Homo sapiens: one gene and its partner. The protein of the gene in region 1 interacts with the protein of each later gene in a pairwise test. Each region holds a gene or a part of one and is shown on either strand. Other genes may lie near its edges.

What was found. The genes of interacting proteins can lie anywhere in the genome.
Region 2: the proteins of TXNDC12 (region 1) and DPF2 interact in binary tests that used the Homo sapiens proteins (3 or more experiments, as listed by UniProt).

Annotation. Positions count from the first base shown.
Region 1 is NC_000001.11:52,037,413-52,042,723, forward strand, and holds part of TXNDC12 (thioredoxin domain-containing protein 12 precursor), read right to left. Parts: intron 4,186-5,311; coding exon 4,125-4,185; intron 1-4,124. UniProt on the Homo sapiens protein: Protein-disulfide reductase of the endoplasmic reticulum that promotes disulfide bond formation in client proteins through its thiol-disulfide oxidase activity.
Region 2 is NC_000011.10:65,336,852-65,340,768, reverse strand, and holds part of DPF2 (zinc finger protein ubi-d4), read right to left. Parts: intron 385-3,917; coding exon 224-384; intron 1-223. UniProt on the Homo sapiens protein: Plays an active role in transcriptional regulation by binding modified histones H3 and H4. Is a negative regulator of myeloid differentiation of hematopoietic progenitor cells. Might also have a role in the development and maturation of lymphoid cells.

The sequences.
Region 1 (5,311 bases):
TGTTGGTCAGGCTGGTCTGGAACTCCCAACTTCAGGTGATCCCCCGACCTCGGCCTCCCAAGTGCTGGGATTACAGGCATGAGCCACTGGGCCCAGCCGCAAATAGACTTTTTAATTTGCCTTTGGTGCTGAACTCATGGGGCTCTGGGTGGCCAGAGTATTGTCCAACATCAAAAGAACTTTAAAAGGTAGTCTCTTACTGGCAAGGTACTTCCTGACTTCAGGGACAAAGCATTGATGGAACCAATCCAGAAAAAGGGTTCTTGTTGTCTAAGCCTTCTTATTGCACAACCTAAACACTGGCAGCTGGTGTTTATCTTTGCTCTTCGAGGCTGGAGGTTAACAGCTTTATAGACAAGGGCAGTTCTGATGACAAACTTGACTCAAACTCCTGGGCTCTGGTAATCGTCCCACCTCTGCCTCCCAAAGTGCTGGGTTTTTTTGCACAAAAGAGTAGAGTTAGCCTGTCTCTTCTTGCCTTCAATGTTGGTACTTGCTTCTCTTCCTATTTTTTTTTTTCCTTTTTAAAAACTGAAATAGGGTCTTATTCTGTTGCCCAGGCTACAGTTCAGTGGTGCACTCATGGCTAACTGCAGCCTCAATCTTCCAGGCTCAAGCAATCCTCCCACCTCAGACTCCTGAGTAGCAGGAACAACAGGTGTGTGCCACCACACCCAGCTAATTTTTGTACTTTTTGTAGAGACAGAGTTTCCCATGTTGCCCAGGTTGGTCTTCCTTACTATTAATGTCCTTTGTGGCTTTTTTTTTCCAGAGTAGGGTACCTTAATCTGCATTAAACACCTGTTCAGGCAGATATCCTTTCTCTTCAATGATTTTCTTAACGGTGTCTGAGAATTCATCTGCTGCCTCTTGGTCAGCATAAGCTGCTTCTCCTGTATCTTGTTTTTTTTTTTTTTGAGACAGGGTCTCACTCTGTCACCCAGGCTGGAGTGCAGTGGGGGGATCTCGGCTCATGCAACCTCCGCCTCCCAGGCTCAAGCGATTCTCCTGCCTCAGCCTCCCAAGTAGCTGGGATTATAGGCATGGACCACTACCACCTAGCTAGTTTTTGTATTTTTTGTAGAGACGGGGTTTCACCATGTTGGCCAGGCTGGTCATAAACTCTTGACCTCAAATGATCCACCCGCCTTGGACTGCCAAAGTGCTGGGATTACGGGCAACACTGCGCCCAGCCTGTCTTGACATTTTTTAAGCCAAACCTCTTTCTAAAATCAGCAAACCATCATTTGTTGTCATTAAATACTCCAGCTTTAGATCCTTCACCTTCTTTTTGCTTTAAGTTGCCATATAATGACTTTGCTTTTTCTCAAATCATATTAGAGTCAATAGGTATGCCTTTTTATAGTACCCATGTAAAAGCTACATATTATGCACATAAAAAGGCATTTGGCAAAAAGTGCAAGGTTTTTGCACCTGTTGGCATAGCTACAGTGACAACTTCATGAATTTTCTTTTTTTTTTCTTTTTCTGTTTTTTTTTTTTTTTTACGCAATTGGTCCTTACGCTGGATTTATCTTTAAAAAAATTTTTTTTTGTAGAGACAGGGTCTTACTTTGTTGCCCAGGCTGGTCTCAATCTACTGGGCTCAATCAGTCCTCCTGCCTCAGACTCTCAAAATGGATTCATCTGGCCAGGCCAGAGCAAGACACCGTCTCAAAAAAAAAAAAAAAAAAAAGGGTTCATTTATCTTGAAACGACAAGCAACTACCTGTGTAGACCTCAGTCTACAGTACATATCAAGCAATTCAATTTTTTCTTGTAATGTCATGAGCATTCTCTGCTTCTTGGGAACACTTCCAGCATCACCAATGGCACCTTGTATGGGTTTCATGGTGTTATTCTAGGTTTATGATATTGTACTAAATACCAGGAAAAATATGCAAGAGTTGTAAGAGATTAATTTTTTTTTTTTTGAGACCAAGTCTCGCTCTGTCTCCCAGGCTGGAGTGCAATGGCGTGATCTTGGCTTACTGCAACTCCGTCTCCCAGGTTCAAGCGATTCTCCTGCCTCAGCCTCCCAAGTAGCTGGGATTACAGGCATGCGCCCACCATGCCCAGCTAAGTTTTTTGTATTTTTAGTAGAGACAGGGTTTCACCATGTTGGCTAGGCTGGTCTCGAACTCCTGACCTCAAGTGATCCACCCACCTCGGCCTCCTAAAGTGCTGGGATTACAGGTGTGAGCCACCGCGCCCAGCTGAGAAACTACGTTATACTGCGATACGCAATACACTGGAGAGACGTACTGCTCACTGAAGATGATTAATGTTGCACGGCATTTTAAGTGGATACTCACAATACTTGAGTTCACCTCCATAGCAACAGGAGGTGGCCACAAAATTATTAGTAATGTTATATACTACAGTTAATTTTTATGCAGTTATGATTTAATATGGCATCTTTACATTTGTTTACATTTCTCCCTTCTGCAAATGGCAGCATGTGTGGTCTATAGGTGTTTGTGTGCAGAAGTTTTTTATTTTTTTATTTTTATTTTTATTTTTTATTTTTGTTTTTTAAGACAGAGTCTCGCTTTGTCTCCCAGGCTGGAGTACAGTGGTGCAATCTCAGCGCACTGCAACCTCCACCTCCCGGGTTCAAGTGATTCTCTTGCTTCAGCCTCCCCTAGTAGCTGAGACTACAGGTGCACACCACCATGCCCAGGTAATTTTTGTATTTTTAGTAGAGACGGGGTTTTACCATGTTGGCCAGGGTGGTCTTGAACTCCCGACCTCAGGTAATCTGCCCGCCTCAGCCTCCCAAAGTGCTGAGATTACAAGCGTGAGCCACCATGCCTGGCCAGAAGCTTTTTAGACAGGGTCTCACTCTGTTTCCAGGCTGCAGTACAGTGGCATGGTCTTAGCTCACTGCAGCCTCAAACTCCCAGGCTCAATTGATCCTCCCACCTCAGCCCCCTCAAGTAACTGGTATTTTTTGTAGAGAAGGGGTTTCACCATGTTGCCCAGATTGGTCTCAACCTCCTGGGCTCAAGTGATCTGCCCGCCTCAACCTACCAAAGTGCTGGGATTACAGGCATGAGCCACCGCACCCAGCCAGTGTGCAGAAGTTTTGATAAATTTTAACTTGTAGATTTCTGTATGTTTTATGGTAGTAAATGATAATATAGACTAATACCTACATATATTTTTACACTTGTAACATACCAATTTTTTAAGTTTTTTGATATTTCTAGGCTATGCTGTTCATCTGCAAGTTTTTTGAAACTGCTTGAAATCTCCAAAACAGTTTCCAATGCATTTATTACTGAAAAAAATCCACATATAAGTGGACCTGTGCAGTTCAAACCCATGTTGTTTGGCCGGGCGTGGTGGCTCACATCTGTAATCCCAGCACTTTGGGAGGCCGAGGCAGGTGGATCGCCTGAGGTTGGGAGCTCAAGACCAGCCTGGCCAACATGGTGAAACCCCGTCTCTACTAAAAACTACAAAAATTAGCCGGCAATGGTGGCACATGCCTGTAATCTCAGCTACGTGGGAGGCTGAGGCTTGACAAGAATTGCTTGAACCTGGGAGGTGGAGGTTGCAATGAATGAAGATCGCACCACTGCACTCCCGCCTGGGTGACAAAGCAAGACTCTGTCTCAAAAAAGAAAAAAAAAGGCCGGGCGCGGTGGCTCACGCCTGTAATCCCAGCACTTTGGGAGGCCGAGGCGGGTGGATCATGAGATCAGGAGATTGAGACCATCCTGGCTAACACGGTGAAACCCCGTCTCTACTAAAAATACAAAAAAATTAGCCAGGCGTGGTGGCGGGTGCCTGTAGTCCCAGCTACTCGGGAGGCTGAGGCAGGAGAATGGCGTGAGCCCAGGAGGTGGAGCTTGCAGTGAGCCGAGATCGTGCCACTGCACTCCAGCCTGGGCGAGAGAGTGAGACTCCATCTCAAAAAGAAAAAAAAAAAAAGAAAAAAAACCCATGTTGTTCAAGGCTCAACTATAAATGTTAGCCATTATTATTGCTGTTGTTGTAATTAGGCAACTATTCAGTTCTTGCTCTGCCTTGGTATAGCCCTTCACCTGAAATTAACGTTAAGTTGATAGCTGAAAAGTGTTTTACCACCATAAATGACCTAAAACCATGTCTTGTACCTGGCAGCTGCTTCTTTCTTCCCATCTTCCAGTGTCCTCCAATGAATATGATCTCCAAAACCTGGAAGGAAAGAACTTTATAAGCATTCACATAATGAACAAAGGGCACAGTCCCAAGAAGGAAGTGTGCATGTTCACAAGATACCCACTAAGAAGGTTTTCTTCTGTCAAGAGCTTGGTGTTCAAGTCCCAGCTCCACCACCTTCTAGGTGTATGGGACCATACCTCAAGCCTCAGTTTTCATACCTGCAAAATGGAGACACCACCACCTAATTCACAGTTTCAAAGGAGGCTAAATTTAAAAATGACGTTAAATGCTTTGTAAACTATCACGGAATATGCTAATAATACTGTAAGAATGAACGAGAATTTCCCACAGAGTAAACATAAAGCAGGTCATAACAAATCATAACCAATTGAAGGTGATTCAGCAATACAGCTTTAGATTCAGAAAGACCTAGGTCCATGACTCCACTTCCTATTACGTGTGTGAATTCTTGTGAGTGAAGTAAGCTCTCCAAGTCCCAATTTCTTTCTTATTTTCCTCCTTCATCTGTAAAAGCAAGACAATAAGACCTACCTCCAAGTGTTAGTATAAGGATTAAATGAAGTAAGTATTTAAAGCTATTGTTATTATTATTCCCACAATTCACCCAGAGTAATCTTCCTATTTTATTTTTTGAAACTCTTGAACATGTTTTGTAGAATAGCACAGAATGGTCTTTCTAAATCATGTTACTCCAGGAAAAAAACAAAAAACAAAAACAAAAAAACTTTCAAAGGCTTTCCAATGCCCTAAAGATAAAGGTCCAACTCTTGCAGTAGGGTTTACAAAGCCTTTCAGAATATGGCACCTGCCCACCTCTCCAGCCTCACTTTCCACATTTTTCCTAAAATCTTATATATACACCCTATACTATACTTTCACTTTTTTTTTTTTTTTTGAGATAGAGTCTCTCTGTCACCCAGGCTAGAATAAAGTGGTATGATCTTGGCTCACTGCAACCTCCACCTCCCAGGTTCAAGCGATTCTTTTGCCTCAGCCTCCTGAGTAGCTGGAATTACAAGCGCCTGCCACCACGACTGGCTAATTTTTTTTTTTGGAGATGGAGTTTTGCTCTTGTTGCCCAGGCTGGAGTGCAATGGCATGATCTCGGCTCACCGCAACCTCCACCTCCTGGGTTCAA
Region 2 (3,917 bases), on another chromosome or scaffold:
ATAGTTCTCCAGACACACAATGGCCTCAGCAGGGCAGAAAACAAAGATGCTGGTATCAAACATCTGCTTCATCCTCCCTGGGTTTCTAATCACAGGAAGACCATATTCATCCATAGGTGGAAGGCAGTAGGGAAAACCCTATCAACTGTCTCATCACCTAAGATGAGGAGGCTTCTTCCTCCTTATGCTCCTGAGTCCCCTTCTCCCAAGTCTGGACCCTCACCTGGACCCCGGTGTCGCTTTTCCATCCAGATGTAACAATTGCTCTGGGCTACTCCGGTCTGTGAGTCCAAGAAAGGCAGGCGCACGCTGCGCTCAGCACAGAGGCGAGCATTGTAATTGTGGCACTGCTCCATGGCATCTTTGTAGTACTGCTCCCCAAGGCTGCAGGGAAGATAGAAATCAGGCGTGTATGTTGGAGCGGGGGGCATAGGGTGCTGAGCTATTCCTCTCCCCTGCCATCTGCTTCTCTAGAAGGCTCAAGGGACTGGGTGGCTGTCTCTTCCGTTCTATTTGCCTCCACTTCTGCCTCATGGGACACGAAGCCCCTTTTCTAGGCCATCATGAGGAATTACTTTACAAATAAATTACCATCAGGAACACATGATTTCATCATATGTCTAATCAGACTTAAGTTTAACCCCCAAAGAGGTGAAAGAATGTTCACTCCACGTGTCTCACAAGCCCACCCCTGTGCTAGTTAAGATGCTATTTCTCTTAACCCTTATGAGGCTAAGAAGCAGATGATAGTCCCTCCTAAGTTCCTCCTTATTCCCTCTTTCCTAGAATCACCTCCCAAATAAACTACATGCTCCCACATCCTTGCCCCAAGGTCTGCTCCAGAGGGAAAGAGTTCAAAGTCTAGGGGACTTATTAAAATGTATTTAGCAAACTATGGTAAATCCATACAATGAAATTCTACTTAGCCATAAGAAGGAAGCTCTTCACATACTGATATTAAACAATTTCAAGTTAACTAGGGACAAAAAGCAAAGCAAGGTACACTGCTGAGAAGCGTCAAATAAAACTATCATTTATGTAACAAAATGGAAAAGAAACTGCAGGTCAGCGGGGAGAAAAAGTGGGTGACTAGGCCACTTCCTTCCATATGCCTTTTTATATCTTTTGAATTTTGAACTAGGTTTTTAATCAACTAATTAATTTTACATTTATGGAAGATGTCTACAAGTACCTGAAGTTCCTTGAAGCTTTTATTGAGCACCATCACTCATAAGAAACTTGTTTGCTCTAAGGCCCATCTTAGGGTTCTTCTCCATTCTCACAAAATAAAATTATATAGGAAAAAATCTTCTTGGTCTCAAAAGACTCAATTTGAAATCTGAATCAAGGGTAAATCTTTAAGTGGAAAACTGGAAAACTGCACAGTGCCAGGAGTTATCTGGTTCTAAGAAGCGTGTATATAGAACCTATCTTGTTCTCATCTTGCAGGGTTTAACAAGGACTTTGGTAATGGAGGTTAACAAACTCGATCTTATATTCAATCAATCTTGTTTTTTTTTTTTTTTAAGAGACAAGGTCTCACTATGTTGCCCAAGCTGGACACAAACTCCTGGCTCAAGTGATCCTCCTGCCTTAGCCTCCCAAGTATCTGGGAATAGAGGCATGTGTCACAGTACCTGGCGTCAATCAATCTTAAACCAAGGGCAGAATTGATTTATTTCTCATAGTATCCCTAATACTCATGACGATGTCTGAGATACAGTCAGACTTGACTTGAGAGTAAAAAGACCTGGCTTGCCTGCAAGTCACACGAACATGGACACTTAGTCAGCCCAGGTGGACCTTGGTTACTCTTCTATAGATTGAGGAGGTTGGACCAAATGAGCTTTGACATATCAGGATTTTACAAGAAACAGCCTGGGGATGAGACAGCAAACAGATTAAGTCTCTGTGGTTTCTGTCCGTAACTCGGGCTACACCAACAAACCCTGCTCTAGAATGTGACAGGGTCCTTCAGTGAGCAGCCACAATAGACCACTGCATAACTTAGCATGTGCCCAGCAAGTAAAAAAGACACATACGACACACAGAGACGGCAATGCCACAAATATAGCCTGGCGTGATTCAATGAGCTGTAATGACTGTAATCTGAGGTAGGCACGAATCTCACGTTGGAGAGCAGAATGGAGAAGGCAGCCTTGCCTCTGTGGGCTCGCCTTTAGGAGGCAGCCACGTCTTCACCACACAGAATAAAATTGGATAAACAAGGTTGAGTGCGGCAGCTCCTTTGTTTCTGCTGATGGGAATTGATACGGACACTGGAAGTCAAATGGAAGGCAGGGCCAGGCTGGCGAGTGCTGCAAAGTCAGAGCAAGGAGGCTGGAAACAGTTTTGCGGGGAATGAATGAGAGATGTTCTGTCAGGGCTCTTGTGAGCTACATAAGGCAGGCAAACAGTCTTGGGGGTAAAAGGGCTGGGAAGGAAACACTGAAGTGTGGGGGGAGAATCTCATGAAGAGAGAACAAGACAGCATGACAGTGAGCTCTTAAGAACTTAAGGGAGGCCGGGCACAGTAGCTCATGCTTATAATCCCAGCACTTTGGGAGGCCAAGGCTGGTGGATCTCTTGAGACCAAGAGTTAGAGACCAGCTTGGGCAACATAGTGAGATCCCATCTCTACAAAACGTTAAAAAATAAAAATAAAAAAGGCCTGGCGCAGTGGCTCACGCCTGTAATCCCAGCACTTTGGGAGACTGAGGTGGACGGATCACCTGAGGTCAGGAGTTCGAGACCAGCCTCAACATGGAGAAACCCTGTCTCTACTAAAAATACAAAATTAGCCGGGCGTGGTGGTACATGACCATAATCCCAGCTACGGGGGAGGCTGAGGCAGAAGAATTGCTTGAACCTGGGAGGCGGAGGTTGCGGTGAGCCGAGATTGCGCCATTGCACTCCAGCCTGGGCAACAAGAGCGAAACTCTGTCTCAAAAAAAATAAAATTAAAAAAAACAAAACAAACAAACAAAAAAACCATCAGCTAGGCTTAGTGATGCATGCCTGTGGTTCCACGTAGCCCCTGGGGCGGATGAGGTAGGGGAATCATTTGAGCCTAGGAAGTTGAGGGTGCAGTAAACCAAGGTTATACCACTGCACTTCAGCCTGGGGGACAGAGGGAGGCTCTGTCTCTTAAAACAAAAAAAAGCAATAACAAAAACTTAAGGCTCCGATACCAAGAAATGTCAAGTTAACATTAACATTGTTCTCTCTCTCTCTCTCTCTCTCTCTCTCTCTCTCTCTCTCTCTATATATATATATATATATATATATATATATTTTTTTTTTTTTTTTTTTTTTTGAGATAGAGTCTTGCTTTGCCGCCCAGGTTAGAATGCAGTGGTGCAATCTCGGCTCACTGCAGCTTCTGCCTACTGCAGCTTCTGCCTCCCGGGTTCCAACGATTCTCTTGCCTCAGGCTCCCGAGTGGCATGCGCCACCACGCCCAGCTAATTTTTGTATTCTTAGTAGAGACAGGGTTTCACCATGTTGGCCAAGCTGGTCTCGAACTCCTGACCTCATGATCCGCCCACCTCGGCCTTCCAAAGTTCTGGGATTACAGGTGTAAGCCACCGCGCCCTGCCTCTAGATTTTGCCTAGAAAGTTTCAAAACCAATCAGCAGCTACAGCTATACTATTATTTTACTTTCCTAGTAAGAACGCTTAAAGACTTTCTCTCTTTTTTTGAGACGGAGTCTCGCTCTGTCGCCTGGGCTGGAGTGCAGTGGTGTGATCTCTCCTGGGTTCAAGCGATTCTTCTGCCTCAGCCTCCTGAGTAGCTGGGACTACAGGTGCACGCCACCATGCCCAGCTAATTTTTGTATTTTTACTAGAGACGGGTTTCACCACCTTGGCCAGGCTGGTCTCAAACTCCTGACCTTGTGATCCGCCCGCCTCAGCCT